4 linked regions of the Homo sapiens genome follow. The protein of the gene in region 2 interacts with the protein of the main gene of each other region in a biochemical or structural test. Each region holds a gene or a part of one and is shown on either strand. Other genes may lie near its edges.

Region 1 (7,020 bases), on a different chromosome or scaffold from region 2:
AGGGACCTTGCTAGAAGGCTCGGAAGTAGCCGTAAGACAAAGAAATGGAAATCGGCATTGTCAATTACCATCCGAGAGCAGCCCCGGTTCTCCTCTTCCCGTGACCACTATCCCCCTTATACTTAGCAAGACTTAAAGAGAAGACTTTCCTGTATCAATGCAAGGTGAAGATGTAGAAAAGTTCAGTCTAACTTTTGGCATGCCACATGAATTAATGTGAGGCAGAAGATAAGATTCAGCTGTTTTTTATAAAGAGTATCAAGCTGATTTAGAAAATGTTCCTTTTGTCCCAATTCAACAAATGCATTCAATGAAAATGATAGTCATAAAAAACCAGTGACTTGCACAGCACAGACCCCTGCCTCCTCTGCCTGCCTCTTTCCTGTGCCACTTATGTTTGGAATTTTCCCCATCAGCTAAGGTTGCATACAAAGCAAGGGCCAAGCTATGGCATATGTTACAGTGCAAACTTCCTTTTCACAGACAGCATGAATTCGTCTTTGCCCAGGTGTCCCGACACCTGACAGAATGCTCATCTTGTTCATACAGCATTTTATTTTTTTGAGACGGAGTTTCACTCCCAGTTTCATTGCACCCAGGCTGGAGTGCAGTGGCGCGATCTCGGCTCATTGCAACCTCCGCCACCCAGGTTCAAGCGATTCTCCTGCCTCAGCCTCCTAAGTAGCTAGGATTACAGGCACGCACTACCACACCCAGCTAAGTTTTTGTATTTTTAGTAGAGACGGGGTTTCACCATGTTGGCCAGGCTGGTCTAGAACTCCTGACCTCAGATGATCCGCCTGCCTCGGCCTCCCAAAGTGCTAGGATTACAGGCGTGAGCCACCGCGCCCGGCCCCATCATACAGCATTTTAAATAGCCATGTGCCATCTGTTTACATGCAACTGATCTGGGTTTCCAAAAATAAACCTTACCCTTTTCTCCAGGCCAGGCTATTAAGCATCAAGTCCAGAATGCTTCACTCTGCTCTGTGGACGGGACCAGCGCTCTCGTCTGGATGTTGATATGCTAGCTGTGCTTCCAAAAATGAATGGGTAAGTTTGCCAGAAGCCAAAGACCAACTTGTACTCTCCAGATTCCACACCCCACCCCCCAACTCTTTAGATAAGAAAAATTATGGCTTTCAAAATTAAAGTTTTCAAAAATATATCATTCTCATACATAGACGTGGTTAAAAAACCAACAAAAGCCTGTCATCACTAAATTTAAAAGATTATTTTGACACAAAAATTGATCTACCACATGAAATTTGATTTGGCAAAACATACCGAACTTGATATTTTTTGAGGCTATGCTTTTGTTGGCTGAGGGAAAGGGGGAACAACCCACAGGGGTTTAGGAATAAGTGGATAATCACCTTTTAAGGTGATTTTAATTGACACTAGTGGGAAAACAGCTCCCTATAAAGTAATGTATGTATTTTTAAAAATCACTCCAAGGAGACAAAGTCCTGGAGGGAGGATTTTTGCAAAAACTGTGCTCACTAGGTAAAATATGAACTAGCCTTGTTCCTGCAGATCCCTCCTGGGGTGCTTTCTAGAATAGCTTTGGGGAACACAGTTCTGGCCAATGTTAAGATGATGGCTCACTCACTCACTTTCAGAATTCAGCTGGTCCTTGAAGGCTTTCTGGTTTCACTGAGTTAATCTGGCGGACCCAGCTGAGGGCAAGATGGAATTGTGGAAGAGCTTCAGCCAACTGTGTTCACCTGCCTTCCCCCATGTACGCAACCTACTCCATCCTGCACAGGTGAGGCTAGTGCGGGGCTGGCAAAGCTTGTGGTCGGGAGGAGGGAAGGGTCTGGCCTTAGGTGTCAGAGAGGCAGAGGGCTTCACATTTACCCAGTTTCTTCCTACAGGGCCATGAGCAGCCCTGTGTGGCAAATCAAACCAGGGGTCAGCAACTTTTTCTACAAAGGGCCTGACAGTAAGTACCTCAGGCTTTGTGGGCCACATGAATTCTGTCACATATTATTTCTTTTTTTTACAACTCCTTAAAAAGGTAAAAGCCATCGCTTGAGCCAGGGAGGTTGATGCTGCAGTGAGTCATGATTGCACTACTGTACTCCAGCCTAGGTGACAGAGCCAGGCCCTGTCTTAAAGAGGAAAAACCATTCCTAGCTCACGGGGCCACATGCCATAGTTTGCTGACCCCTGAATTCAACCTTTCTGCTTTTCTGCAAGCTGCCTCTCTCTCGAAATGTTTTGACATCTAGCTTGCTGACACCTTTGATTCAAGCCTGGCGCAGCGGGACTGGCTGAGCTCACCTGAGTCTTAAAGGGGCCGCCCACAGAGCCAGGCAGCGACTACAGATCCCTCTTATACTCCCTCACTGCTGCTGGGAAGAGCTGGAGGGAAACAGGAAGCAGTAATCTCACTGCAGGAAGGGGCAACTGTAGACATCCGGGAAGCATCCCGACAGTCCCGTTCCTTTCGGGGAAGCCGCTGAAATCTCCTTTCCCTTCCCTAGATGGGCCCTAGTGGACCTAAGCATCTGGGCTCTCAGCAGGACGATGTGTCTCAGAACCACCACCTGAGCCAGACACTTGAGCAATTTCAAACCTAAACACAATCATGTGTTTCAGCAGCAGACACTCAACAATGCAGGTGGGCCCTTCCCCTTGAGATTTAAACTTCAGCATTAGCAACAACTGAGAACAACCCATACATTTTCCCCACCGGACCCCTGTGCTGGTCAAACACGTAACAACACAACCAGGACAGGGCGCCTGCACCACCATTCGGGCACAGAGTCAGCTCAACAACAGCGTGGGACTACTCATCTGATGACTTTACTCAGCAGTGCTTGGGGCTGTCGGGTTAAAAGTCTTGACACGTCTGGGGTCCCAACCAAAACACAAAACGAAAAATTCTTTTTTTGGAAAAACGCTTTCAGACAGAGCATTATTCCCTGGAACAAGCCTTGGTCATTCGTGTGTTTTAAAAATAAAAAGCGCAGCGAGAACAGAGGTAGGACTTAATGTTGCCATCCGAGAGTTTTCTGCGAGGCCAAGAATGAGCTAGAACGTGTGCCGCGGTGAGGCTGCCACCACCAGGACTCTTCTGCAGGATGCGAAGGGAACAGTCTGGATGTGTGCGCCTATGTGTGCACGTTCTTCCTAAAACATGGTTCTTCTTGAAGACACGGTGGGAGCGGAGTTTTGTGTCTCCTGGCCGGCGGCTCCTGGTTCTCCCAGGCCACACGACTGACAGCTCCCCTTCTTGTGCTGCATGTTGGTTAGTTTCTTCTCCTCCTCTCTATGGCAAGAGTAGGGGAAAAGTTAGGATGACTTCACTCGTTTAAGGGAAATCAAGATGTAAGGGGTCGATCCAAATCCACAGTGAAAGTGAGGGAGGGATCATATGAAAATATCCGCCCAGCCTGACGCAGCAAAAGGCGGGTCAGCTTTTGCTCATCCACGAAGGGCTCTTTAAGTTTTCTGGGGCGGGTTTCCCTGATGGTTTGGAGGTTGCAGCTGGGTCCCTCGGGGTTCCCTGGGGCTCATGCAAGAAGGAAGATTCACTCAAAGTGGTGTCCTGGGAGTCAGCGACGGTGGACGGGTCAGCCTCACTGGACAGGTCTTCCGTTGAGAAGGTGAGACTCCCCAGCTTGGCAAGAGAGTGTGAGCGCTTCAGTGGGGAAGAGACGGTGAGGCCCGCCAGCCGGAGCCGGGTCTCAATCTCCTGTGTCCGCTGCTTCACCAGCCCGGGCTTCCCACGGACACTGTGGATGCTATCGCTGCTGGAGCTCCGGGTCAGGTTGGAGCTCATGGAAGAGGAGGTGGGGGTGTAGCAGATGGTCTTCAGAAAGTCTTTTGAGAAACTACTGGTGTGGTCCAGGCGGTAGAAGAAAGGAGGGGGGCTCTTCAGTGAGCCTCCTTCCAATGAAGCGGGGGCGGCCTCTGACTTCTCATCACTCCCGGCCTGGCTGGGCATAACCAGGGGGCCCAGCTCGTGGAGCGCGGCTGGATCCTGGCTCTCCTCGGGGATGCTGGCCTCCAGCCTGCTGGCAGGGCCATCCCTGGAGGGAGGTGCTGGGTCTGCAGGCACGCTCTTCAGCCGCTCTAGCTCTTTGGTGTGCTTGCGGACCAAGCCTGCCTTCTGCAGCTGAATGATGGACTCCTGGTGCTGCATCAGGTAGCTGTTGGTTGTCGGCTTCTCAGATTCATTACTGAACAGAAGCCTCAGGTCCTTGGCTGGCTTCATATCTTTCTTGGGTGACGATTCTTCCTTTATTACCACTTCTGTGCTGGGAGGGTTCTTATCACAGTGAGAATTCTTCAAAAGGAGGGACTTTGGCAGGACTTTTGGGGTCTCTCTGGAAGGTTCCAAAAGGCTGGCTGGTGGCTCTAGGGCAGCTCCAGCCCCAGGGCCACTGGTGTCTGCCCTCCTGGAGCCTGCTGGTGGTAGGAACGGGGGAGGTTCGGTTGGGCCAGAGGCTGGCTTCTCCGGAACACGGGACCTGCTGGCCAAGTGGGCCACAGGGGAGGACGTGATGTGGGGTAGGAAGGCTGGCTGGGTGCAGATGGCGGGAGCATTGGGGTCCTCACATCGCTCCCTGGAGGCCTCAGGAGCCCCGCTGGCTGTAGGGTACATGCAGTCGGCACAGGATTTATAGGAAGGCTTCACTTTGTTAAGGATCCCAAATATAGCATCATCCTGCAAGGAAGGGGACAAGAGCATGGTGAGACGGTGCAGTCATGAGCCAAAGACCAAAAACATGAGGGTGGGCAGGGAAAGGGGTGCGAGGCCGGACTGGGGGCCAGGCCTGGAGGGGAGGCTCTCATTTCACTTAATACTGACAGACAGACCTCCTGGAGCCCACTTGATCGAGAATAACCACTGGCCTGAGGTGGATTTTATACCCCAATAGAAAACAAGTTTACATTGTTTCCTAAGGAAACCCTCCTGCCTTTTGGTCAGTGAGGATCTAAGTGAACGTGACACATGCCTCTGTGTCCCCACCCTTCACTTCCTTACAGGCCAACTGACAGGTACCCAGTGGTCCTGGGAATGGACTAGAAAGCTGTGTGAAGAGTCCCAGGGGAGAGAGGGACAAGTTCTAAGTCTCCGCGGAGGGAAGGCTTCCCAGAGGAACTGACACTTCAGCTGAGGCTTCTGGGACAAGCAGGTGTTGACCAGCCAGAGAGAGCAGCATGCAGGTCCAGAAGCAAAGCAGGAAGGAGGAGGGCACCCCCCTACCCCACCCCGCCTGCACAGGACTGTAGGCTGGAGGGCAGGACAAGGCAGGAGGGCAACAGGGCTCTGTCTCTCTCTCTTTCAAACAGATAAGAGACAAGGTCCTACTATGTTGCCCAGGCTGGTCTCGAACTCCTGGGCTCAAGTGTTCCTCCTGCCTCGGCCTCCCAAAGTGCTAGGATTACAGGTGTGAGCGACTACACCCCGCCAGCTCTGTCTCTCAACACCTCCTTATGTCCTTGCCCCATCCTCTGAGCCACTGTGATCCCAGCATCCCAACTTCCCCTCTTACCCCAGCAGCCTGCCTGTAGACCACAGCCAGAGGGGGCTCATCACCCACCTGCTTAAAGGCCCCGCCATGGCTTCCAGTTTTTTTTTTTTTTTAAATGAAGTTTCGCTCTTGTTGCCCAGGGTGGAGTGCAATTGCGTGATCTTGTCTCACTGCAACCTCTGCCTCCCAGGTTCAAGCAATTCTCCTGCCTCAGCCTCCTGAGTAGCTGGGATTACAGGCATGCACCACCACAGCCAGCTAATTTAATATTTTTAGTAGAGATGTGGTTTCACCATGTTGGTCAGACTGGTCTCAAACTCCTGACCTCAGATGATCTGCCCGCCTCAGCCTCTCAAAGTGCTGGGATTACAGGCGTGCGGCACCATGCCCAGCTAATTTTGTATTTTTAGTAGAGACAGGGTTTCACCATGTTGGTCATGCTGGTCTCAAACTCCTGACCTCAGATGATCTGCCTGCCTTGGCCTCCAAAAGTGCTGGGATTATAAGCGTGAGCCACTGCACCTGGCCCAGGGTTTTATCTCATCTGTCTTTATGGGTATTTGCTTTGTGGTAGGCAGGGAAGTGGGGGAAATCCATAATTAGTATTTGATTTGGAATGCTTTATGGAGGTCGACAGATGCAACTGCCCAGTTTTGTTTGCATTATAACATGCTGTTAATAATAATAAACTGGCTGTATACTTGAATGCATCTGTCAGGACCCCAAGTGCCCCCACTTGAGAACCACGGCTGTCCTGTGAGATGGGCAGGTGAAGCCAGAGGCAACAAAGTCAGCAGCAGGGCAAGGGTGGAAGTGGAGACCAGGCTGCACGGCCACCCTTCCACTGAACCAGCCTCTGCTCCTGCATCACTTCCCCCATGGAGGAGGGAAAAGGTTGGCTGGAATTAACCAATTTCTCAGTAAGCACCAGGTTGAAGCTCAAACCTTGTGGCAGATAATCCACTAAAAATGGCAACTCCAAGAGACTAATGGAGTTAAGTATTAGAGTCTAAGTTGGAAGGCTGGATACTTGACAACGTTGGGAAATTACTATCAGTTTTGTTTTTGTTTTTAGACGGAGTCTCGCTCTGTCACCCAGGCTGGAGTGCAGTGGCACGAACTTGACTCACTGCAACCTCTGCCTCCTGGGTTCAAGCAATTCTCGTGCCTCAGCCTCCTGAGTAGCTGGGATTACAGGCATGCACCATCACACCCAGCTAATTTTTATATTTTTAGTAGAGACAGGGTTTCACCATGTTGGTCAGGATAGTTTCCATCTCCTGACCTCCTGATCTGCCTGCCTCGGCTTCCCAAAATGCTGGGATTACAGATGTGAGCTACCGCGTCTGGCCCTATCAGTTTTTTTAAAAGGTGACAATGGTATTGTGGCTATGTTAACATACTGGAGCATTTATGAATAAAATGATATATCTGAGGCCAAGCGTGGTGACTCAAACCTGTAATTCCAGCACTTTGGGAAGCCAAGGTGGGCAGATGGCTTGAGACCAGGCTGGGCAACAGTAAGACCTCA
Region 2 (7,876 bases):
AGTGAAGTCCATGTTGACGTAGTCACTAGAGCTGTCAGCTTCTCTCTGCTCATGTGTGGGCTTTTGTGGTTTTGGCTTGATTTTATATCCTTTTGTAATAAAAGAAAGTCGGTTAGGTCTCTTAGCTTTATTCTTTGGGGGCTCATGATCTGAAGGCTTTGAAGGTGATCCCCCATCTCCAGGCTTTGAGAATGATCCCTCACCTGAAGGCTTTGAAGCTGCATCTTTGGGGTCCCAGTTATAGGAGACTTCTTTGTCTAGGCCCCTCCCCAGGAACTTTCCAGGTAACATTGGCACATACTCACTGTTGTCATTCTGTCCCAAAGGTGAGCTCCGAAAAGGGTTTGGTAGAGAGAAGTAGGAGCTCCAACTTTTGGAGGAAGAGCCACCCTGAGGATTTCTGGGGTTTTTTGGAATTGCACCGGCTCCAGGAGCCATAAACATGTAGTCACTCTCACTGTCATTGTCCTTTGAGTCATCCTCTTTATTAGTATCAGGTGCTTTTGGAGGACTCGGAGCAGGTGGTGGGCTCACTCTGGGAAACATCATCATGTACCCTCTTGAATCTTCAAAAGGGGATCGAGAGTGGCGCTTTTTTGAAGCAGAGACATTTTGAGGAGCCATTGGCATATAATCACTGGAGCTTACAAGAGGGGTGGCCACCCCTGGCCTCATTGGCACGTATGGGTCATCCTCATCTTCATCAAAAGCTCTGGCTCTGTGGGGACCTCGAGCTGCACCTTCTGGGATCTCTGCATCTTTCACTTCTTTGGCTTCTTTGCATTCTTTCGTGGCTCCTCTGTCAACACAAAAATAAAGTCTGAATCTTCCCCCAGACTTCCCTTTTCCACCAGTTCCTCCAGCTGGTGGGGGTGGAGGAGGAGGTGGTGGAGGTGGTGGCATTTGCTGTTGCTTGCTTTGAGTTAATTTGCCAAAATAGGATCTTTTCTTCAGAGATTTTCCACGTTCACCATCACCATCGGATCCTTTCCCACTTCCTGAGCCTTTGCCCCCCCCAGAGTTCTTGCCACCACCTGAGCCATGGCCATCTCCAGGTCCCTGGCCACCACCTGAGCCATGCCCACCTCCAGGTCTCTGGCCACCACCTGAACCGTGCCCACCTGCGGTGCCCTGGCCATCTCTAGAGCACTGGTTTCCTCCTGAGCCCTGGCCATTTGAGCCCTGACCACCTCGGGATCCCTGTCCCTCGCCTGAACACTGGTTTCCTCCCGAGCTATGGCTACTGGAGCCTTGGCCATTTGAGCCCTGGCCACCTCCTGAGCCCCGGCCATTTCCTGAGCCCCAATTGTTCATAGGCATGTAGTCACCTCCGCTTCCTTCCTGATCTTCTTTGCCCTGGGGATTGCCTTCCTCCCCAAAGTTGCCAGAGCCAGAACCAGACACTTCAGAAGACAGGCGAGCTCCATTGTTCGGGGCTTCTGCAGGGTGCCGGGGACGTGCTGGGCTGGGTGCTAAGCGGCGAAAAAAGCTGGCCGGCACTGAAACCGCTCTCCTTGACCTGCGCCCTCTGGGCAGGTGCAGTCTTCCTCGCCTGGAGTGGGCCACAGGCTCGCTGGGTGTTACGAAGCGCCTGGTGAAAAGCATCTCGTCTTCCCCGTCGCCGATGGCCCTGAGGTGGCAAAACTGCTCAAAGCGGGACCTTCTGAGCCAGCCTCCCGGCTCGAGCGGCACCAAGCCCAGGTGCCTCCTAGCGGACAGCAGGGTTAACAGGTGGGCGCCGATGCTGATGCTGTAGCTGCGGCAGCGGGCTCTGTATTCGTCTGCACACAAGGCTCTCATCTTCTCCAAAAACAGCTCATGCATGTTTTGGGCAACCACACAGTCATCGACCTGCATCCAGAGCTCTCCCGGACCGATGACAGTGGACCTGCCTACTTCCAAGAAGAAATACTGCTCCGAGTGTCCACAGCGACGGATGCTCAGGAGCTGGACGACCACGCTGGCCACTTCGGTGTTCAGCCTCACAAACACGACCTCCTCGTCGGTTAGACACAGCCGGAACACGCCGCTCAGCTCTTTTCTGTGCCCCAGCCCCCTGGGTTTGACTATTACCTGCCACACATCTTTATAGAAGGGTGGCTCCGCCGCCGCTGCCGCCGCCAGCGCGGCCGGCTCTCCGTCCGGCTGCGCGCCGAGCGTGCCGCAGCGGCGGCGCTTGCTCTCGAGGATGAGGCGGCTGAGCAGCAAGTACCAGCTTTCCTGCTCCGACTCGTTCTCGGCCACCATCGCGAAGTATTCGTCTTGGGTGAAAAGAGCAATGAGGTGTCGGTACCTTGCATCTGCTCGCTGGCTCACGGAAAAGCACTGGTATAGGGTGATCACGCGCCGCGGTGGAATGAGCGGGGGGATCGCGGCGCCAGAGGCGGCCGCCGCTGCTGCAGCCGCCGCGGCGCGGACACTGTGCCGGAACTTCCTGGCATTTTCGTAGTATTCCAGCCGAGCTGGGGCGTCAGCAGTCTCGAGTTTGAGCACGAAGTAGCGCCTGTGCCCATGCTTCTGTTTCCGCAGGTAGCCGCGTTTGCAGACTTCCTCCCCGACGGGCAGGTCCTCCTCTTCGGACTCGGAGTCTGACCGGGAGCCAGTGGCCGTGGAGAGCCACATGGCTCCCGGACAAGACGACCCGGTCCCAATGAGTGCGGTCGGGGTTCCCGAGGAAAGAAGCGGGGTGGTCACCACTGCTGCTAGAGCTGCCGCTGCCGCCGCTGCTGCACCTCTTAGTCTTCTTGTCGCTTGGTCGCGAGTGAAGGAGCAACTCGCCATGGTGATGCACGATGGTTTTAAGGTGAGCGAGGAGGAGGGGGAATTCAGGAAAGGGAGGGTTGGGGGAAGAGGCTGTCTACCCTCGTCTGCCCGCCCCAGCCCCCTCCTGCCTTGGCCCGCGCCCCCGCCCACTCCACTCTGAGCGCACGACAGCGGGCAAAACAACACGTGACCACAGCCTCACGCGGCGGCCGCTGCGGATCCTGCTACCGGCGCAATGGAGGGGCGCGAGCGGCCACCAGTAGAGGTGAGCAAGGGAGGAGACGGCGGGCTCGGGAGGCGGAGCCACCTCCGGCTGTGCCAAATCCTCCCGGTCAATCTCCAGGCCTGTGGGCCAAGGGAGGACCGAGAGGAGGAGGCGGGCTCTCTGGCCAAGCTGATTCTAACAGGGAGTCCAGGAAGGCATGAGGGGGCGGGAGAAGGCCTGGAGGGGCGGAGGAGAAAGCGGCCGGCTATCAGGGTCGGGAGAGGGCGCCACAGTCGGGGCCCCATTGGTGGGAGGTGGTGGGAGGGGGCGTAGCGCAAGCAGTGCCTGCCTGCGGCGCCAGGGTGCAGAGCGGGCACAGTCGCGGGACAGTTTGTTTGTTTATTTGGGAAGCGGGAGCCAGGTGAAACTGTTGCAAGGCTCTGATTGGTTGGGATAGGAGCCAATGGGAGGGTCCGGCAAGAAGGCAGCCCCGAAATCATTAGTTTGGCGGGAGGGAGGGGTGAGAGGGGAGAGGGGAGAGGGGGCGTGGCTGGGGTCCCAAAGTGGCTTCGCTGTCGGCTTGTGGCGCTCTCAGGCGGTAAACAACCTTACGCAAATAGCTGTTAATGGTGGTGGTAAACTCGTGCAAATCCCAGAGCCGTGGTGACCCGGGATGGAGTCGGGTGCCCTGGTACTCCCTGTCAATCACATAAATTCTCTGTTCCTGTCACAGTCTGGTTCATTCTTTCCAGCCGCACAAGGCGGCGGATCGAGCTTCTTGGGAGAAAGTGTCGGCACCCCCTGAAAACGGGTTGACGACCAGGGCGCTCAGAACTGCTTCCCACCGCTCTGCAGGCACTCCCGAGCCCGCTGCACCCCTGACAGAAGCCCGCGACTCTGAGGCACACGAATAACAGCGATGCATTCAAAATGAACATGATCTTTATTAATCAGAATGCACTTCTAGCCCACGAAACACAGGTTCCCTAAATACAGTGTTTCTGCCTATTTGATTAACGATGACTATGAAAGCACAAATTTGGGGGCCTGCAATGTATACAGCCATATTGGAAAAAATTGGACTCGATTCTTACTGAAATAACCAGTGTTGGGCTGTGAAGGTATTTTTCTGTGGGAAATGCTTTGGAAGGTGCCTTTAAAAGAATCTCAAAATATTGCTTTCCTTTCCTTGAGCGAGACCGAAAAACTTTAGAAAAAGAAAAGCTCATACCTAGAACAAAGGACCACGCTGAATGCATATTCTAGAGCACATTTCACATCCCTCGCGTCAACAAGAAGAAGAAGAGGAGCTTTGATGCATTTCAGTCTACAAGTTGACATCACAAAAGTAAGAACTACTGCCTCCCTCATTTCTGGAAAAACTGCCGGAGTGTAAGTGCAACCTCCTCAAGTCTCTCTCTCTCTCTCCCTCTCCTTCTCCCTTTCCCTCTCCCTCTCCCTCTCTCCCCCACCACCCCAGTTATTACTTGACTAGGATTTTAGACTCTTAATGGTGGAGATGGGTCGTGAATTATCAAAGGAGTGACCAGGTTTGCAAAGAGGAATGGAGGGAGAGGAGGAGAGAAATACAGCATTTCTCTCTGAAAGAATGGAATGTCAGTTCACCCTTGCTCTAGGGTTGATATGGCAAAGGGTACTATTTATAAAATCCAACAGTAAACTAGGCAATATGTATATCATAAAAATAAACCATATTTCTGCCCTCTTAAGAATTTGCTCTGTTAGAAACAGAACACACGTATTTGAATAAATGGCTCCTTTTTGATGCTATAATTTAAGAGAAAAAGAAATTGGTTTGGGTTGTCCCCCAGATATTACAAATATTCAATAACATTCCCTCTGCTGCCAATGGTTTATAAGTGCAATATATTCACAGGTGCTGGAAGCAGCCGTGGTTTCGGAAGGGAGCTAGAGGCAGAACGAGTGTGGATGCTGAGAGATCCCTGACTGTGACTGCTACATATTTCAGCTGCGTAGTCACATATATACAAGATTCCCTGCACTTACAACCAAAATGATAACAAATGCTCTCATTTGGGATTTTGTTTGATAGTCATTAGGATATTTTATAAGTCTTTCCAAGCACAAGGTTTTTTTCTTTTTTTTTTTAAAGAGAAATGTGACAAATAAGGCAACATATTTGAAAGTGCTTTGAGTAATAACATGACATTGAAAATATCAAAATGAATATTAAATGAAATGGGAAAATACTGGAGATTTTTAAATCCTCATGTCCTTTTTCCTGTACATATAGTTTTTACATAGAGCAGTAGGCTTACAATTTATATAATTTTGCATCCTGTTCTTTTCACTGAACATTATACAATATTTCCCCATATTATTATGCATCAGCATAAATATCATTTAAAATACAACATATTATCCAACACAATCGATGAATATTAATGTAATTAATCATCTGCTTTGGGGCATTTAGGTTGTTTTCATTTTTTTCAGTATTATAAATAACATGTCAATGAATATCTTCTACCTACAGCCTTTTAAAATTCCCATTGGGTAAAAACTGAGCACTGGAATTAGTAGGCTAAAAGATATGAATATTTAATACATTATTTTTCAAAAATATTATATTAGTTTACCCTGTCACCAGACTGATTGTCAGCATTGGACATTCTTATTTTTAAAAAATTAGAGATAAGATGGGTGAAACGGTATTCCACTATTCTTTTTTTTTTTTTTTTTGAGATGGAGTCTCATCCTGTCACCGAGGCTGGAGTGCAGTGACGTGATCTCAGCTCCCTGCAACCTCGGTCTCCCGGGTTCAAGCAATTCTCCTGCCTCAGCCTCCCAAGTAGCTGGGATTACAAGTGCCCGCCACCATGCCCAGCTATTTTTTGTATTTTTAGTAGAGAAGGGTTTTCACCATGTTGGCCAGGCTAGTCTCGAACTCCTGACCTTGTGATCCACCTGCCTCAGCCTCCCAAAGTGCTGGGATTACAGGCCTGAGCTACTGCACCTGGCCTCCACTATTCTTTCAATGTGCTTTTTTTTTTTAACTAGTGAGATTAAACATTTATATATATTCACTGACATTATATTATTTCCTATGTCCTTTGTGTTGTCTATTGTATTCTTAGTATTTTCTTCTTATGTGTAACTTGTTTATGTAATAAATACATTAAAACTTTGTGGTATTTGTTGCAAGTTTTTTTTCCCCAGTCTGTTGACTTTAAAAATCACATTTAACTTGATTTTCTTCTATTTTGAAAGATATGTAAATTGGGCATGATGTGATTTGTAGCACAGTTTGAAAGGGAGCTGTTGATACAAGTGTCACCATGGTCACTTTTAAACTTCTTTTAAAAGATCTCATATATTTCAGCTTATATGCTCTTTTAAAAGGAGAAATAGGTTTCTTCTTTTGTCAACAAATTATGAGAGCATCTAAATTAGTTAAATTTTATTTATCACTCTGAAATAATACTTTATGAGACATTTTCTATTTTAAGGGGAAATATCTAGCATTAATCAATGTGTTAAAAAAAGAAGTGTGAAAATAATTTCTAAACTATTACAGTGAAAGATGAACAGTGCTGATCACTTTGTACCCAGGGTATATTATTTGGCTGCAGCGAAGTGGAATTAGAGCTATAGTGAGATGCTTCACAGAAGAATTTTACTTTGTATCTTTCCTAATCTGGCAAGCATGAGTACTTGTAAACTGGGAGAATGTCTGACTAGAACATTATTTTCTTCCTACAGGTCAACCAAACCTTCTCAGTCCTAAAGTTGTCTCAACACTGAAGCTCTGTAGAGCAGACCATCATTACTGAATTGTACCAGATGCTAGAGCTTGTCTGACATACATTTAAATTTTCATTTTCCTGGACAACTTAATGATATAGAATAGTCATTTAGTTTAGGTCAGATTCTCATAGGCAAAGTAAAACAGATATCTAGATGGTTTAGGCAAAATGTAGAGAATTTTTATTTGGCTTGAACTCACTCAGTGGTGGCTTTAATGCTCTACCCTCTCTTGGTTATAGATTCCTGTCTCTTATTTTTTTTCGTTTTTGTTTTTATTTTAGGACAGTTTATCCCAGAAGGCTAAAGTTGCCTTGCATATTCAGTTATTACAACTGTAAAGTTTGGAATCTGCACAAAGGGTCTGAAATACAGATTTTTAAAACAACAGATAATAAATAATAAGACTTAAAAGATAGTTCTTGTTTTAGTTTGCCAATTCAACTCAAGGGATAAAAAACACAAGCATTGTAACTGGCATTTTATGGCTATAAACTAATGTAAATGGATAAATAGCCACAATACCTTTAAAACCAATTCCAACTAATGAAGAAATATGCCTTTAATGATGTGTGCTTTTAAAAGGAATTTCCTGTGAGTCCTGTTTTAAGAAAGCAATTGTTTGAATTGACTTGTCAGTGATAACAAAAATTCATCTGCTTCTTTTCTTACATACATGATCATGAATATTCTAAACTCAACTTGTACTAAAATCGAAATGGGTAATTCAAGTGTGGATTTATTTAGTTTAAAAATTAAACTGTTGTATTAAATATGGACGACATTATTCAAGAGAATAAAACCTAAGAGGAAAAGTAACCAGTATCAAAAAACTATTATTCTTGTCCCACGTATAAATTATCTTCTAAGTATTAATTCTAAAAGCTTCATGAGCTAACGTCCAATTATGCTGATAAAAATGTGATGCCACCCTTGATATTAAAAAATGATGTTAGTGATGACGATTGCTTCTCTGTGTTGGGACATAAATCATGTACAATGAAAGATGCTTTCTACACTATGCAGGAATGAGGGCTGCCCTGTGATTTGTGGCTGCAGCCACTGTTTGTAGATGATGGCTTTGCTTCTCAGCTTCTTTACTTCTGTGCTACTCAAAACCTC
Region 3 (7,020 bases), on a different chromosome or scaffold from region 2:
ACGGCCTCCCGGCACCCCTGAGAAACCACGATGTGCGGCTGCCCGCGAAGCACACAGCGCCCAAAATGCCAGGCTGAAGAGAGCGCAAACCGCAACTCAGTAAAAGCTGGCGTCACCAGGCCGGGCGCAGTGGCTCACGCCTGTAATCCCAGCACTTTGGGAGGCCGAGGTGGGTGGATCACAAGGTCAGGAGATCAAGACCATCCTGGCTAACACAGTGAAACCCCATCTCTACTAAAAATACAAAATATTAGCCGGGTGTGGTGGCGGGCGCCTGTAGTCCCAGCTACTCGGGAGGCTGAGGCAGGAGAATGGCGTGAACCCGGGACGCGGAGCTTGCAGTGAGCCGAGATTGCGCCACTGCACTCCAGCCTGGGTGACCGAGCGAGACTCCGTCTCAAAAAAAAAAAAAAAAAAAAAGCTGGCATCACCCACGTCACTCTCATCTGCCTACAGGGACCTGCACTATTCAGCAGCCTGCAACCGCCGCCCAAGGACAGGACCCACATAGCCATCTGGGTTCCCAAAAGCCATACCCCGCAGGCTGCAGGTCACGGGGCTGTGCCAGGCATGTGTGTGCAGATGAGCCTGTGTGCCTGTGTATGCGTGGTTGTGGCTGTGTGCGCCTGTGTGCGTGTGCTTTAGTGTGCACATGTGCATTTGTGGGCACGTGTGTACATGTCTGCATGTGTCTGCACGTGTGTCTGAGCGTGCACACACACACGGGGTTGGGAGGCCACAGCTCCTGTTGGGAAAAGCTCAGTCTCTTGGCTGAGAAACGGAGCCCGGGCCTCCTGAGCCACAGGCCGTCGGACCGGCAGTGAGGCTTCGTGGCCCAAGCCCAGCCTCTGCGCAGAGGTGGAATCCCAGCAGCCTCCCCAAGGGCTGGGGTGGGATCTGGTTCGGGTGGGGTCTCAAACCCCGGCCTCCTGGGGCCCTGGGTGCAACCAATGGGAACACAGAAACAGCCAACAGTGACCCCAACAGCTGCCCTCGCCTGGGAGAAGCTGCTTGACTCATAGGACACACACTTCTGCCGCATAACTGCCTGCTGAACCCTTCTGCCCACGAGTGGCAACTACCATTCATCCTCATTTAACAGGTGGGTAAAGTGAGGCAGGAGGTGGGAAGCAGGGCCACAAAACATGCCTGGGGTCCAGGCCGCCACAGCCCATGCTCCTGCGCCCCTGGGCGGCCGCTCTTGAAGATGCAGCCACATCATGACCACTGCGTGGGCCTGTTTCCCTCATCTGACAACCTCATCGGGCTGAGTGCCTGCCATGGGTGCCATGGGCACCGCCTGCCATGGGTGCCCACGTGAGGCCGATCCACTGCCGTGGCCTCTCGGACCTGCCCATCCTGCGCTCTTTCCCAGGGACCCTGATTCCCACCACGACAGACACTGACTGGGGGTGCACCTGGGTTCCCCGGACAACCCCAGCAACAGACGCCAAATGCCCTCCCGCAGGAGCTCCGGCAGCACCAGCAATAAATTTAACCACATTTCCGGGGATGATTCAGCTCCCTGGCCCAGCTAATCACAGACTGGGAACGGCCCCAAAGGTGCTCAGAGCTCCCCCAGGCCTGATGGTCATCTTCAGGCACCCCCACCCCAGGGAAGGCACCCCTGGCCAATGAGAGGCTCAGTCCTCGGCCCTGCTCCTCACGCCTGCCCGGGCAATCAGACCCCGACCCGGGAGAGGTTGGTGTGAGCAGAAGGGACGGAGCCAGGTGGGCCAGGTGCGGCCTTTTACATGGTGAAGCTGGGAGTGGCACACAGCAGTATCATCACCACAGAACAGTCACTCCAGCCACCTGACGCCAGCTCCGGGCTGGCCAAGACCTCCCACGAGCTGAGTGCCGGGCAGGCACCTGCCGTTAAAGCCGGGGCTTCGCCCAGCGTGCACATGGGCCATGAAAGTCATTCACAACTTAACATCGGGCTCCTTGCGGCGTGGCCTGGCCTGCTCTGGGCCACCTGCCTCCCAACAGAACTGTTTCCCGAAAAGGTGACAGGGCCAGAAACCCACTCTCCCCACAGAACCTCCTCGAAGGGAAGTGGCACTCGCACCACGACGGACTGATGATTCAACGCACCTGCCAGTGACATGGGGCGGCCCCGCCAGAGGCTCCAGTGACCCCGGGCGGCCCCACCAGAGGCTCCGGTGACTCGGGGCGGCCCTGCCAGCAGCCTCCCGACCCCACCTACCACCGAGCAGGGCCTCACCTAGGCGGAGCTCCCCGAAGTTGCCGCAGCCGATCTTCTTGCCGACGCGGAAGTTGGGGCCCACCATCAGGACCCCCGAGCTGGTCCCCGAGCTCCGGATGCCGTGGCTGCTCCGGCCCCCGCCGGCCTTGGACATTCTCCGGCCCTCCTCCGTCTCCCCTTTCCCTCCTTTCTTGTCAAAATCCATAAGTTTGTGATACCCTGGCCTCTCCACGGTGACTCTGCTGCCGTGCAAATCCCAAGTCTCTGGAAACCTGAGGTCTTGGCTCCTCTGTGGCTAGAACATCACTGCGGCCGGTGGGCGGGCGTGGGCCCGTGGCTCCCAGCTACTGAGACGCAGGCGTTCGGGCCGGCCAGGCCGCGCTGCTCTTCTCAGTGGCCTCGGGGTCGCTCTCGGGGGCAGGAGACATTCTGCTGACACATCCCACCGCCTCAAAGCTCACGGCTCACAGCTGCAGAGAAACAGAGGCACAGGTGAGCACCGGCAAGGCCCCCGCGGGGCCACTGAGGACACGGGGCGGAGGCCACAGAGGACACAGCCAGGAGACTGCTGGGCTGGAAGGAGCTCTGAAGGCCGGGGCATGATGAGCACCGTCCCTGCCCGGAACCCAGCTGGGAAGCACACATCACATGACATCAGAGGCCAGAGATCTCGGCGTGGCTGCCTGGGGACGAACAGGGTAGGGCTCAGGGGGCTTTCTGTAAAGCGGGATGGGTGGGTGGGTGGGTGGGTGGCACAGGTGGGAGAGTGTACTGCCAGGAGAGCATGACTGCCAATCCCGGGTAGAAGCCCTGAGGATCCTGAAGCCAGGGGAGCAGTCGCACCCCCAGACACAGAGGGGCCACACAACAGTCCCCGTATCCAGGCCCAGGGCCGCTCTGGGAAAGAGGGAGGGAGGCAGATGACAGCAGGCAGGCCCGAGGCAGGGACACAGGAGCCACCGAGCTGCCCCTGCCCATGGCGACTGGTTGATGCTGAGAGCGGGGAGAGTGGGCCGGAGGGCAGGAGGCCCCGGAGAGCCGGGCACTGATGCAGGAGCCCCCAGGGCCTGACCCAGGCTCGGGTTCTTCTCCAGCAGCCACTGGTGGAGCGGGGCAGGCTGGACGCCACTCGAGGCTGTGATGATGCCAGGCTGGGTCGGACCCATCCCCTTCGGTGCAGAGCGGAGCTGAGGAGGGAATGGCGGGGCTTGAGGGACCAGCGGAGCCAACAGCCACCTAAGCAAGGCTGGGCACGGGGCAGGCAGCAAACTTCTACCCCAGGGGAAAAGACAGAAGCCTCTGGTCCTGAGAAGGAACACGCAGTCCCTGCTCCCGGGATGGTGGGACCCCAGCCCACAGCCCCTCGCTGAGTCTGCACCACCTTAAATGCTCCCGAGCCCAGAGCTGAGGGCCCCAGAGCCTGTTGCCACCCACAGAGAAACGCCGTGTCTGGACAGGGGCTCATGGCTGAGGGGACTCTGTGCAGGTCGCTCTCTGGAGCGAGGGGGCCAGCCAGCCCCGGCTGGCATGGAGCCCAGTCTCAGCGCAGGCCCCGACGGGAGGCAGGACGGTCCCCAGCAAGGAGCCTCGGGACAGCCTGGGGAGGAGGGAGGAGGGAGGAGCCCCACCTGCAGAACTGAAGGGTGGTCAGGGGCAGCCTGGGGAGGAGGGAGGAGCCCCCACCTGCAGAACTGAAGGGTGGTCGGGGGCAGCCTGGGGAGGAGGGAGGAGCCCCACCTGCAGAACTGAAGGGTGGTCTGGGGCAGCCTGGGGAGGAGGGAGGAGGGAGGAGCCCCACCTGCAGAACTGAAGGGTGGTCAGGGACAGCCTGGGGAGGAGCCCCACCTGCAGAACTGAAGGGTGGTCGGGGGCAGCCTGGGGAGGAGGGAGGAGGGAGGAGCCCCACCTGCAGAACTGAAGGGTGGTGGGGGCAGCCTGGGGAGGAGGGAGGAGCCCCCACCTGCAGAACTGAAGGGTGGTCGGGGGCAGCCTGGGGAGGAGGGAGGAGCCCCACCTGCAGAACTGAAGGGTGGTCGGGGGCAGCCTGGGGAGAAGGGAGGAGGGAGGAGCCCCACCTGCAGAACTGAAGGGTGGTCGGGGGCAGCCTGGGGAGAAGGGAGGAGGGAGGAGCCCCACCTGCAGAACTGAAGGGTGGTCGGGGGCAGCCTGGGGAGGAGGGAGGAAGGAGGAGCCCCACCTGCAGAACTGAAGGGTGGTCGGGGGCAGCCTGGGGAGGAGGGAGGAAGGAGGAGCCCCACCTGCAGAACTGAAGGGTGGTGGGGGCAGCCTGGGGAGGAGGGAGGAGCCCCACCTGCAGAACTGAAGGGTGGCAGCTGTGGTGTTAACTGGACGCTCGGGTGGTGCAACCCCAGGGACGCGGCTGTCACCTCGTCGCCCTCAAGCCAGGTACCCGCCCAGGAGGCCAAGAACCCTGCACCGGGAGCCACCGCAGCCACCTGCCTGTCTGCACAGATCCTGCCGGGTCCTCCCTGACCCAGGCCCCAGCCACCCCTGGCCCCATTCTAGGGCTCCAGACAGACAGAAGCCCCACCCTCACTGAAGAAGGGGGACCACAGTTTGCTGCTGTGCCCCAGATGTGCAGGGGAAGAGGTTTCCTGCCAACCGGCAGGACGTAGGGGCCGCGGGTGAAGAGGGGCCGTGGGTGCACAGCCATCGCCGAAAATGTTAGGACAGGAACTCCCAGCTGAGTAAGCCACATCAGAAACGAAGGCACCGGCGTCACAAGCACTGCCCCCCTGGATGTGGCCCCTGCGTTCCGGTGCCAGAAACACCCTGTGGGGATCACAGGCCTTGGGTTCCGCACGGCAACAGCCGCTCGAATGTTCTGGTTTCCCAGTGCACACACAAGTTACGTTCACAGTATACCGTGGTCTAGGAAGTGTGCAGTAGCGTTGTGTCTAATCAAAGGACACACTTTAATTAAGCGGGGCGTGGTGTGCAAGCCTGTGGTCCCAGCTACTCGGGAGACTGAGGCGGGAGGATCGTTTGAGCCCAGGAGGCGGAGGCTGCAGTGAGCTATGATCGCACCACTGCACTCCAGCCTGGGGGATACAGCAAGACCCCATCTTAAATAAATAATAAAGAAATAAAAATACTTTACTGCTAAGCAATGGTAATGATCATGGGAACCGGGAGTGGCCCTAATCTCCCCGGAGAAGGGTCTTGCCTCAATGTGGACGGCGGCTGACTCGTTGGGGCGGTGGCTGCTGGAGGCTGGGGCAACTTCTTAAACTATGACCACAAAAAAGTTGGCCACAGCGATGGACTCTTCCTTTCATGAAAGATTTCTCTGTGGGGCGTGATGCTGTCTGATAGCATTGATTACCCACAGCAGAACGTCTTTCAGAACTGCAGTCGGTCCTCTCAACCCGGCCGCGGCTTCATCAACCGAGGTTCCGGGCTGTTCCAAGTTCTTTGTCCTCATTACCCCCAGGTTCACAGAATCTTCACTGGGACTAGAGCGCAACTGAAGCAACTCCCCTGCTCACCCTTCAGAGGCAACTCCTCACGTGTTAAAGTTTTCTCGCGAGACAGCGACAATGCAGTCACATCTCCAAGTCCTTCTCATTCTAGTTCTCTTGCTGCTTCTAAAACCTCTACAGTCCCTCCTCCACTGAAGTCCTGAACCCTCACAGTGATCTTTCAGGCCTGGGACCAACTTCTTCCAAACTTCCGCTCATCCTGACATGTTACCTCCTCCCATGGATCACGCGTGTCCTTCACAGCCTCTAGAACGGCAAAGCCTTTCCGGGGGTTTCAATTTACCCAATTTCCCCAGCTCCATCAGAGGAATTGCTCTCCACGGCACCTACAGGCACCTAGAGCCTTACAAATGTATTTCTCAATAATGAGAGTCATGGGCGGCTGCGGTGGCTCCTGCCTGTAACCCCGACACTTTGGGAGGCTGACGCAGGCAGACTGCTTGAGGCCGGGAGTTCAAGACCAGCCTGGGCAACACAGGGAGACCCTATCTTTACAAAAATAAAAACAAAATTAGCCAGTCATGGCGGTGCGCACCTGTGGTCCTAGCTACTTAGGAGACTGAGGTGAGAGGATCGCTTGAGCCTGGGAGGTGGAGGCTAAAGTGAGCTGTGATTCTGCTTCTCCACTGCAGCCTGGGAGACACAGTGAGACCGTGCCTCAAAAACACTAAGACTTGGCCAGGCACAGTGGCTCAGGCCTGTAGTCCCAGCACTTTGGGAGGCTGAGGCGGGCAGACTGCTTTGAGCTCAGGAGTTCAAGACCAGCCTGAGGAACATGGTGAAACCCCCTATGAAAAAATATAAAAATTAGCTGGGCATGGTGGCACGCACCTGTAGCCCCAGCTACTCAGGAGGCTGAGGAAAGACAATTGCTTCAACCCGGGAGGTGGAGGATGCAGTGAGCCAAGATCGTGCTACTGCACTCCAGCCTGGGTGACAGTGGGACACCTTGTCATGCATAAATAAATGAATGAATGACATGTCAAGGAGTCATCTTGATTTCCGAGTCATTCATTCATTCATTGATCCACAGGCTACAGGCTGGATGTTGTGCTAGCAGGGATGGAAACAATGATCTTTTTTTTTTTTTTGGAAACGGAGTCTCGCTCTGTCGCCCAGGCTGGAGTGCAGTGGCACAATCTCGGCTCACTGCAACCTCCGCCTCCTGGGTTCATGCCATTCTCCTGCCTCAGCCTCCTGAGTAGCTGGGACTAAAGGCGCCCGCCACCACGGCCGGTTAATTTTTTGTATTTTTAGTAGAGACGCGGTTTCACTGTGGTCTCGATCTCCTGACCTCGTGATCTGCCC
Region 4 (7,878 bases), on a different chromosome or scaffold from region 2:
GATTCTCCTGCCTCAGCCTCCCGAGTAGCTGGGATTACAGGCACCCACCACTACGCCCAGCTAATTTTTTGTATTTTTAGCAGAGACGGGGTTTCACCATGTTGGCCAAGATGGTCTTGAACTCCTGACCTCGTGATTCGCCCGGCTTGGCTTCCCAAAGTGCTGGGATTACTGGCGTGAGCTACCACACCCGCCCATTAACTTGCTTTTTGAAACAGCTGTATTATTAGTACTCATGACCTCAACATAAGCATATGCATGGCTTAATGAATGCCTGGTATTAATTATATAATTCACGCTCACAAACGAGAGGAAGAATTTATTCAGTCATATTACAAATCTCACTACAGTGGGTTCTAAGATTCTCAACTCCTTAAATTGGAATTATATTGTGCTCAAAGTTGACTGCAACTACCAGCATCTGCCAGGAACCGCAGGTTTCACCAATCAGATTCTTGGTGTCCTGGTCTTTGTTATACAGTATTTGATTTATAATCACTTTCTCCCCACTTTTAAAGTCCATTTAGTTCAGTAGTTAATCTTGTAGTCATTATACTGTCATGGCTTTTTTTTTTCTATCTCTATCCCACTATGCAAACAGTTGGTGTCCTCAATTATAATAGCTTTTAATGTTTAAAGTTTAGAGTAATACCCGGTCGACAAATCCATAAAGTCATAAACATCTAACCCTGGAAAAACTGTATCAACACCCAGTCCTTTTAAAATAGATGTTTAAGAAACGAACTGGCCAGTTTGTTACTTTAAAAATTCTAGGCAACTTTTCAACTCAAATTTGGGATAATTTAAATAAAAGAAACCTCTGATAAAATCAGTGTTACAGGGCAAACACAACAATAAAAGCAAATCTCTGCTAAAACGCTTAAGGCAAATTAAAGCAACTAATCAATTAAAATAACGTATTTCACTTGGAAAAGAGAATGCTTGGTCACTTTGCGTTAATTTTAAAATAAGAAATACAAAATCATTAGACTTAACACAAAAAGCATGTCTGAAATTGAACTAGGATACAACTAAGTGTCATTCAAAAATTTTCCTTAATAACATTCTAGCCTAATTCCACCTTGGAAATTAACCAGACTGATCTCTGGCCTACTAATGGTCCTCGGGGAGAAAATATGCAATAAATTTTCCAAAAAATATCCTCGCTGAAGCCAATGCACCTTCTCTTATCTTTGTAATTAACGTACTATAAAAGTGGTGGTGTCTGGCCTGCTTCAAACTTGGCACCACAGTATCAATATACAGTTCTGATATTTTGGTTAAAGGTTTTTTTGTTTCTAAACGCTAAAGCATTTTCATTTTTTTGACTGTTCCAAAGGCTGCAGTCCTGGAGTTCTTAACCTGGAGTTCAGAGATCTGGAGGGAGTACAAGCACCCGGGATGGTGTGCAAACTTGTGTGTACGTGCCTTTGGCGGGGAGGGGTGGGGGTGGGGGTGGGGGTGGGGTGGTGAGTGCTCGGCTATCTTCAGATTCTCAAAGAAGTCTATGGCTTAAAAACGGTTTTTGGCCGGGTGTGGTGGCTCACGCCTGTAATCCCAGCATTTTGGGAGACCGAGGCAGGCGGATCACGAGGGCAAGAGATCGAGACCATCCAGGCCAACATGGTGAAACACCGTCTCTACTAAAAATACAAAAATTAGCTGGGTGTGGTGGCGTGAGCCAGTAGTCCCAGCTACTCGGGAGGCTAAGGCAGGAGAATCGCTTGAACCCGGGAGGCGGAGGTTGCAGTGAGCCGAGATCGCACCACTGCACTCCAGCCTGGCGACACAGCGAGACTCCGTCTCAAAAAAAAAAAAAAAAAAGAGGTTTTTAGAAAAACCAACAAATCCCTGCATCAGTATTACACCCAGAGAAAGTCACGAAAGGCAAAAAGCGTGCATTTTAACTATGCAACCACCGTTAAACATTCAAAACGCATCCTCTTCACATTGAGAAACAGCCTCGTGAGAGGGAAAAAAAAAAAACGCATCCTCTTATCCAGTGACCCAGATCCTGACACTAGCTTTCTGTTAGGAAGGCCTTCTGGAAAATAATTTGGTTCAGAATGCGGGGAATATGGGTTCAAGCGCGCCCCACCCCCCTATACAAGCACTCTTCGACAGACCCGGTTCTCGACCTTCCTCCGCGGTCGGGGAGGGCTCTCGCGTACCTGGGCGCAGGCTCGATGAGGGTGGTGGTGTCCAGGTAGTGGATCTTGTAAAACTCCAGCAGGGCCGGCAAATGGTCAAATTCCTGGTCCCCGATCTTAAAACGGCGGTTGGGCAGCGAGTTGATGATGTAGTGGGAGACCCGCGAGTTCTCGGACACCGACAGCACATAGTCCCCAGGGCAGGTGGAAGAATCGCGGACGAGGAACATACCGTGGCGCTGGCCCTGGAGCCGGGTCTGCGCCTCCTGGCGAGACACCGGCCCCATATACCAGGCGGAGCGGTCCGAGGAGTCGAACCTGGCGGAGGACATGGTGTTGGACCGGGGACTCTGCGGCGGTAGGGGCGGCGGCTGTCCTCGCCTGCTCTGCACGCCTTAGCCCGGCAGACGGCTTTGGGGCCGAGGAAGGGCCTCTCGCACACCTCGAGGAGCGCTCAGAGGGCTGGGCCAGCACTTTCCTCTCGGCTCCGGGCCCGCAGCATCCTCCGACGCCGCCCGCCTGCTCCGGGGCCGCCACACGGAGAGAGCCGCCCGGGAATGCACGGCAGAGCCGGGGGGTCGGGGCAGGCAAACCCGAGCCGCAGCGGAGGCCACCCCGGGGTTCTCGGGCTGCTCGGCGTCCCAGGGGTGCCTCCAGTGACTCCCGGCCTGGAACGCGCCGGCGCCGCAGCTCGACGGGTCTTCACCGACCCCCGCCGTCACACGAGGCACCGAACTCGAAGGAGCGTCGCGCCTCCGGGGTGCTTTTGCCCAGCTTGTTCCCAATAGCCACAGCAACAAAATGGCGGACGCGGGAGAAGCGGCAGCCACCTCCCCCTCCGCTCAGCGCGCTCCGTCTGCGCACGCGCTGGGCCCCGGCTCCCGGCGGCCGCCGGGGCCCTCCCGTTACGTCACACAGCGCAGCCAATCAGGAGCACCGTCGCGACGATCAGGGTGGGCGCTGGTCGCGCCCGCTCCCGCGTTCCAGGAGGAGGCTGAAGAGGCGCCGGCGGTAGGCACTCTCTTCCTGGGCCGCTGCGCGCCGCTGGGGGCGCTGCGGCTGCCGGGTCTCCCAGCGCTGGCAGGAAAACAGCTGGAGCCGAGAGGGAACCGCGTTTCGAAAACCTGCTTCTGGGAACAAAGCGTAACGTGCAGGCTGAATCGCGGGCCAGGGAGGCGTGGCACTGAGGCGACCTGGCCAGCCTAGGGGCCTGAGGGAGGTCAAGGACTGACAGGTCCCGATGGGCCGAGGTGGCCCAGTAAAAGGATGAGCCCAGGGGCAGATGTGACCACCAGATAGGTGACTGACTGAATGACTCAGTCCCCAGGTGGCCTGATAGGCTAAGGAAGCCCTAGTGGCTACGTGACCCGCTAAATGGAGTGAGAGGAGAGAGAAGGTGAGGGTTAGATTGACTCAATTAAGTGGTCAAGGAAGTCCACAAGTGGGTAACCTGGCTATCATGGGCTCTGAACTGCTGAAAGTAAAATACAAATGCCTCTCGGGCGTGGCCCCGAGGCTTCCCCTGCCCCGGATTATGCCTGCTTCTGCCTATTTATTAATCCCTATTTGTTTTTGTTTGTTTTCTTTCTTTCTTTCTTTCTTTCTTTCTTTCTTTCTTTCTTTCTTTCTTTTCTTTTTTCTTTTCTTTTCTTTCTCTCTCTCTCTCTCTTCCTTTCCTTTCCCTTTCCCTTTCCTTTCCCTTTCCCTTTCCTTTCCTTCTTTCGACGGAGTCTCGCTCTGTCACCAGGTTGGAGTGCAGGGGCGCGATCTCGGCTCACTGCAACCTCCGCCTCCCGGGTTCAAGCGATTCTCCTGCCTCAGCCTCCCGAGTAGCTGGGATTACAGCTGTCCGCCGCCATGCCCTGCTAATTTTTGTATTTTTAGTAGAAACGGGGTTTCACCATGTTGGCCAGGCTGGTCTCAAACTCCTGACCTCAGGTGATCTGCCTGCCTCAGCTTCCCAAAGTGCTAGGATTACAGGCGTGAGCCACCGTGCCCAGCCTGTTTGTTTTATTTTGTTTGTTTTTGAGACAGGTTCTCCTTCTGTCACCCAGGCTGGAGTGCAGTGGAACTATCATGGCTCACTGCAGCCTTGATTTCCCCATCTCAAGGGATCCTCCCACCTCAGCCTTCCGAGTAGTTGGGACTACAGGCTCGCGCTGCCATGCCCAGCTAATTTTTTTGATTTTTTTTTTTTTTTTTTTTTTTTTGAGACGGAGTCTCGCTCTGTCGCCCAGGCTGGAGTGCAGTGGCGGGATCTCGGCTCACTGCAAGCTCCGCCTCCCGGGTTCACGCCATTCTCCTGCCTCAGCCTCCCAAGTAGCTGGGACTACAGGCGCCCGCCACTACGCCCGGCTAATTTTTTGTATTTTTAGTAGAGACGGGGTTTCACCGTTTTAGCCGGGATGGTCTCGATCTCCTGACCTCGTGATCCGCCCGCCTCGGCCTCCCAAAGTGCTGGGATTACAGGCGTGAGCCACCGCGCCCGGCCTTTGATTTTTAATAGAGACGAAATCTCACCATGTTGCCCAGGCTCGTCTCAGACTTTTGAGCTCAAACAATCCTCCCCCTCAGCCAAGATGTGAGCCACCCCGCCCAGCTATGTATGAAACAAGTTAATATATGCAAAGTGCTTAGAATAGTACCTGGCACATAGTAAGCATCATATGAGTCTTCCATTATTATTATTCAGTCATTCCCTGGGCCTCTACCTCTATACCCTAAAACCCTGAGCATACACCCTCAGTGGGTGGGTGAGGGTGGAGAGAAAAATCTCCACTTTGTTTTCTAACTACTTTTCACTGTCAGATTTACCACTTCATAATCACCTGCTCCTTGCCCAGCCCTTTTTTTTTTTTTTTATTCTGATACGGACTCTAGCTCTGTAGCCCAGGCTGGAGGAGTGCAGTGGCGTGATCTCAGCTCACTGCAACCTCTGCCTCCCAGGTCCAGGTTCAAGCAATTCTCCTGCCTCAGCCTGCCAAGTAGGTGGGATTGATTACAGGCATGCACCACCATGCCCAGCTAATTTTTGTATTTTTAGTAGAGACAGGGTTTCACCATGTTCGCCAGGCTGGTCTTGAACTCCTGACCTCATGATCCTCCTGCCTCAGCCTCCCAAAGTGCTGGGATTACAGGCGTGAGCCACCGCCTGTAATCCTAGTGGTGATTTTTTAATTTTTAAATTTTTTGTAGAGATGAGGTCTCACTGTATTGCCCAAGCTGATCTGGAACTGCTGGGCTCAGGTAATCCTCCCAGCTTGGCCTCCCAAAGTGTTGGGATTACAGACGTGAGCCACCCACCCAGCTGCTCAACCTTCTTAATCTGGCTTCTACCCATGCTTTGACTGAATTAGGCTTTTTGGGTTTTGTTTTGTTTTTAAAGACATGTCTCTCTGTTGCTGACTCTCGTCTCAAATTCCTAGGCTCAAGTAGTCCTCCTGCCTCAGCCTCCAAAGTAGCTAGGATTACAGATGTGAGCCACAGCAACCCGCTCTCTGCCCTCTAAATGCAGAGCGTCCTTCACCTCTCCATAGTTTTTCCTTTAGTAGGCTAATAATCAGCATGAAGCATTTAGGGGTCACATCTCTGGTGACTCCAAACACATATTCTAAAAGCAGAACCAAAACTGACCATACTCTCTGATTACTATGTATACACTGTGGGCACAGCCTAAATTAATTTTTATCACATTCTATTGTAATTGTTCATAAATATTTTTCTCATCCCAATCTGAGCATCTTGAGGGCAGCCTGCTATATATTATTTTTTCTATTCCCAGTACCTAGCACATAATACATACTTTTTTTTTTTTTTGAGATGGGGTCTCATTCTGCTGCCCAGGCTGGAGTGTAGTGGTGCAATCTCGGCTCACTGCAACCTCTGCCTTCTGGATTCAAGTGATTCTCCTGCTTCAGCCTCCTGAGTAGTTGGGATTACAGGCACGCGCCACCATGCCTGACTAATTTTTGTATTTTTAGTAGAGATAGGGTTTCACCATGTTAGCCAGGCTGGTCTCGAACTCCTGACCTCATAATCTGCCCGCCTTGGCCTCCCAAAGTGCTCGGATTACAGGTGTGAGCCACCACGCCCAGCCGATACATACTTAATGTATGGTTTTTGAATGTAGATGGATAAAGATGGGAGGAAGCCAGAGAAAAATGATAATTGAACATTAGCTGCTGGCTCACTCCCTTTTCAGCAGCCCTCTTTGCCTCAGCCCTCTTTGCCTCATCTTTTCAGGGTGTACTATCTGTCTATATAAACTATCTGCTCTTGGCCAGGTGCAGTGGCTCACACCTGTAATCCCAGCATTTTGGGAAGGTGAAGCAGGTGGATCCTTTGAGGCCAGGAGTTAGAGACCAGCCTGGACAACATTGCAAAACCCCATCTCTATTTTAAAAAAAGTAAAAACATTCTTTTTTTCGAGACAGAGTCTCACTCTGTTGCTCAGGCTAGAGTGCAGTGGCGTGATCTCGGCTCACTGCAACCTCCGCCTCCCTGGTTCAAGTGATTCTTCCTGCCTCAGCCTCCTGAGTAGCTGGGACTACAGGCGCATGCCACAACACCTGGCTAATTTTTGTATTTTTTAGTAGAGACCAGGTTTCAACATATTGGCCAGGCTGGTCTTGAACTCCTGACCTCGCAACCCGCCCACCTTGGCCTCCCAAAGTGCTGGGATTACAGGAGTGAGCCACGGCACCCAGTCAATGTAAAAACATTGTAAAAATAAACTCTCTGCTCTCTATTTTCCTTAAATAAACTCTCTTTTTAGAAAAAAGTAAAGTCCGGGCACAGTGGTTCACACCTGTAATCCCAGCACTTTGCAAGGCTGAGGTGGGCAGATCACTTGAGGTGAGGAGTTCAAGACCAGTCTGGCCAACATAGTGAAACCCTGTCTCTACTAAAAATACCAAAATTAGCTGAGCATGGTGGCGCTCACCTGTAGTCCCAGCTACTTAGGAGGCTGAGACAGGAGAATAGCTTGAACCTGGGAGGCGGAGGTTGCAGTGAGCCAAGATTGTGCCACTACCCTCCAGCCTGGGAGACAGAGTGAGACACCATCTCAAAAAAAAAAAAAAAAAAAGAACCAAATATCTCTCATTTTGCTTCTAAATACTCCAGAGGGGAATAAGGTGTGGGTTAGATAAAAGTGAAACAAGAATGGCCATGTGAGATTGATAATTATTGAAACCAGGTGACATGATGCGAGGGTAGGGTTAATTATATTCTATAATACTTTTATGTATGTTTGGAATTTGTCATAATAAAATTTTTGTAAAAGATACTTTCCTTTATTTTTCCTTAGCACAGTTGAGACAAGCATAAAATAAACTTTCCAGGCTGGGCATGTTGGCTCATGCCTGTAATCCCAGCACTTTGGGAGGCCAAGGTGGGTAGATCACTTGAGCCCAGGTGTTCAAGTCCCAGCTACTCAGGAGGCTGAGGTTGGGGGATCATCTGAGCCCAGGAGGTCGAGGCTGCAGTAAGCCTTGATTGTGCCACTGCACCTCAGCCTAGGCAACAGAGCAAGACCCTGTCAAAAACATTCCAAAAAAAGTTACTAAATGCTGAGATAGCAAAACAGCAATGAGTAGAGAAACAGAAAGAAACCATTAAAAAAGCTGTAATAGGCCGGGCGCAGTGGCTCATGCCTGTAATCCCAGCACTTTTGGAGGCCGAGGTGGGTGGATCACGATGTAAGGAGATCAAGACTATCCTGGCTAAC

Evidence for each region.
Region 1: the proteins of IRS4 (region 2) and SSH1 form a complex in vitro, tested with the Homo sapiens proteins (one study listed by BioGRID).
Region 3: the proteins of IRS4 (region 2) and CSNK1G2 form a complex in vitro, tested with the Homo sapiens proteins (one study listed by BioGRID).
Region 4: the proteins of IRS4 (region 2) and CRKL form a complex in vitro, tested with the Homo sapiens proteins (one study listed by BioGRID).

Annotation. Positions count from the first base shown.
Region 1 is NC_000012.12:108,784,567-108,791,586, forward strand, and holds part of SSH1 (protein phosphatase Slingshot homolog 1), read right to left. Parts: intron 4,679-7,020; coding exon 3,422-4,678; 3' UTR 1-3,421. UniProt on the Homo sapiens protein: Protein phosphatase which regulates actin filament dynamics. Dephosphorylates and activates the actin binding/depolymerizing factor cofilin, which subsequently binds to actin filaments and stimulates their disassembly.
Region 2 is NC_000023.11:108,733,564-108,741,439, forward strand, and holds the start of IRS4 (insulin receptor substrate 4), read right to left. Parts: upstream 3,001-7,876; 5' UTR 2,782-3,000; coding exon 1-2,781. UniProt on the Homo sapiens protein: Acts as an interface between multiple growth factor receptors possessing tyrosine kinase activity, such as insulin receptor, IGF1R and FGFR1, and a complex network of intracellular signaling molecules containing SH2 domains.
Region 3 is NC_000019.10:1,965,167-1,972,186, reverse strand, and holds part of CSNK1G2 (casein kinase I), read right to left. Parts: intron 3,397-7,020; exon of another isoform or gene 3,282-3,396; intron 2,680-3,281; 5' UTR 2,415-2,679; coding exon 2,228-2,414; intron 1-2,227. UniProt on the Homo sapiens protein: Serine/threonine-protein kinase. Casein kinases are operationally defined by their preferential utilization of acidic proteins such as caseins as substrates. It can phosphorylate a large number of proteins. Participates in Wnt signaling.
Region 4 is NC_000022.11:20,912,539-20,920,416, reverse strand, and holds the start of CRKL (crk-like protein), read right to left. Parts: upstream 3,011-7,878; 5' UTR 2,483-3,010; coding exon 2,172-2,482; intron 1-2,171. UniProt on the Homo sapiens protein: May mediate the transduction of intracellular signals.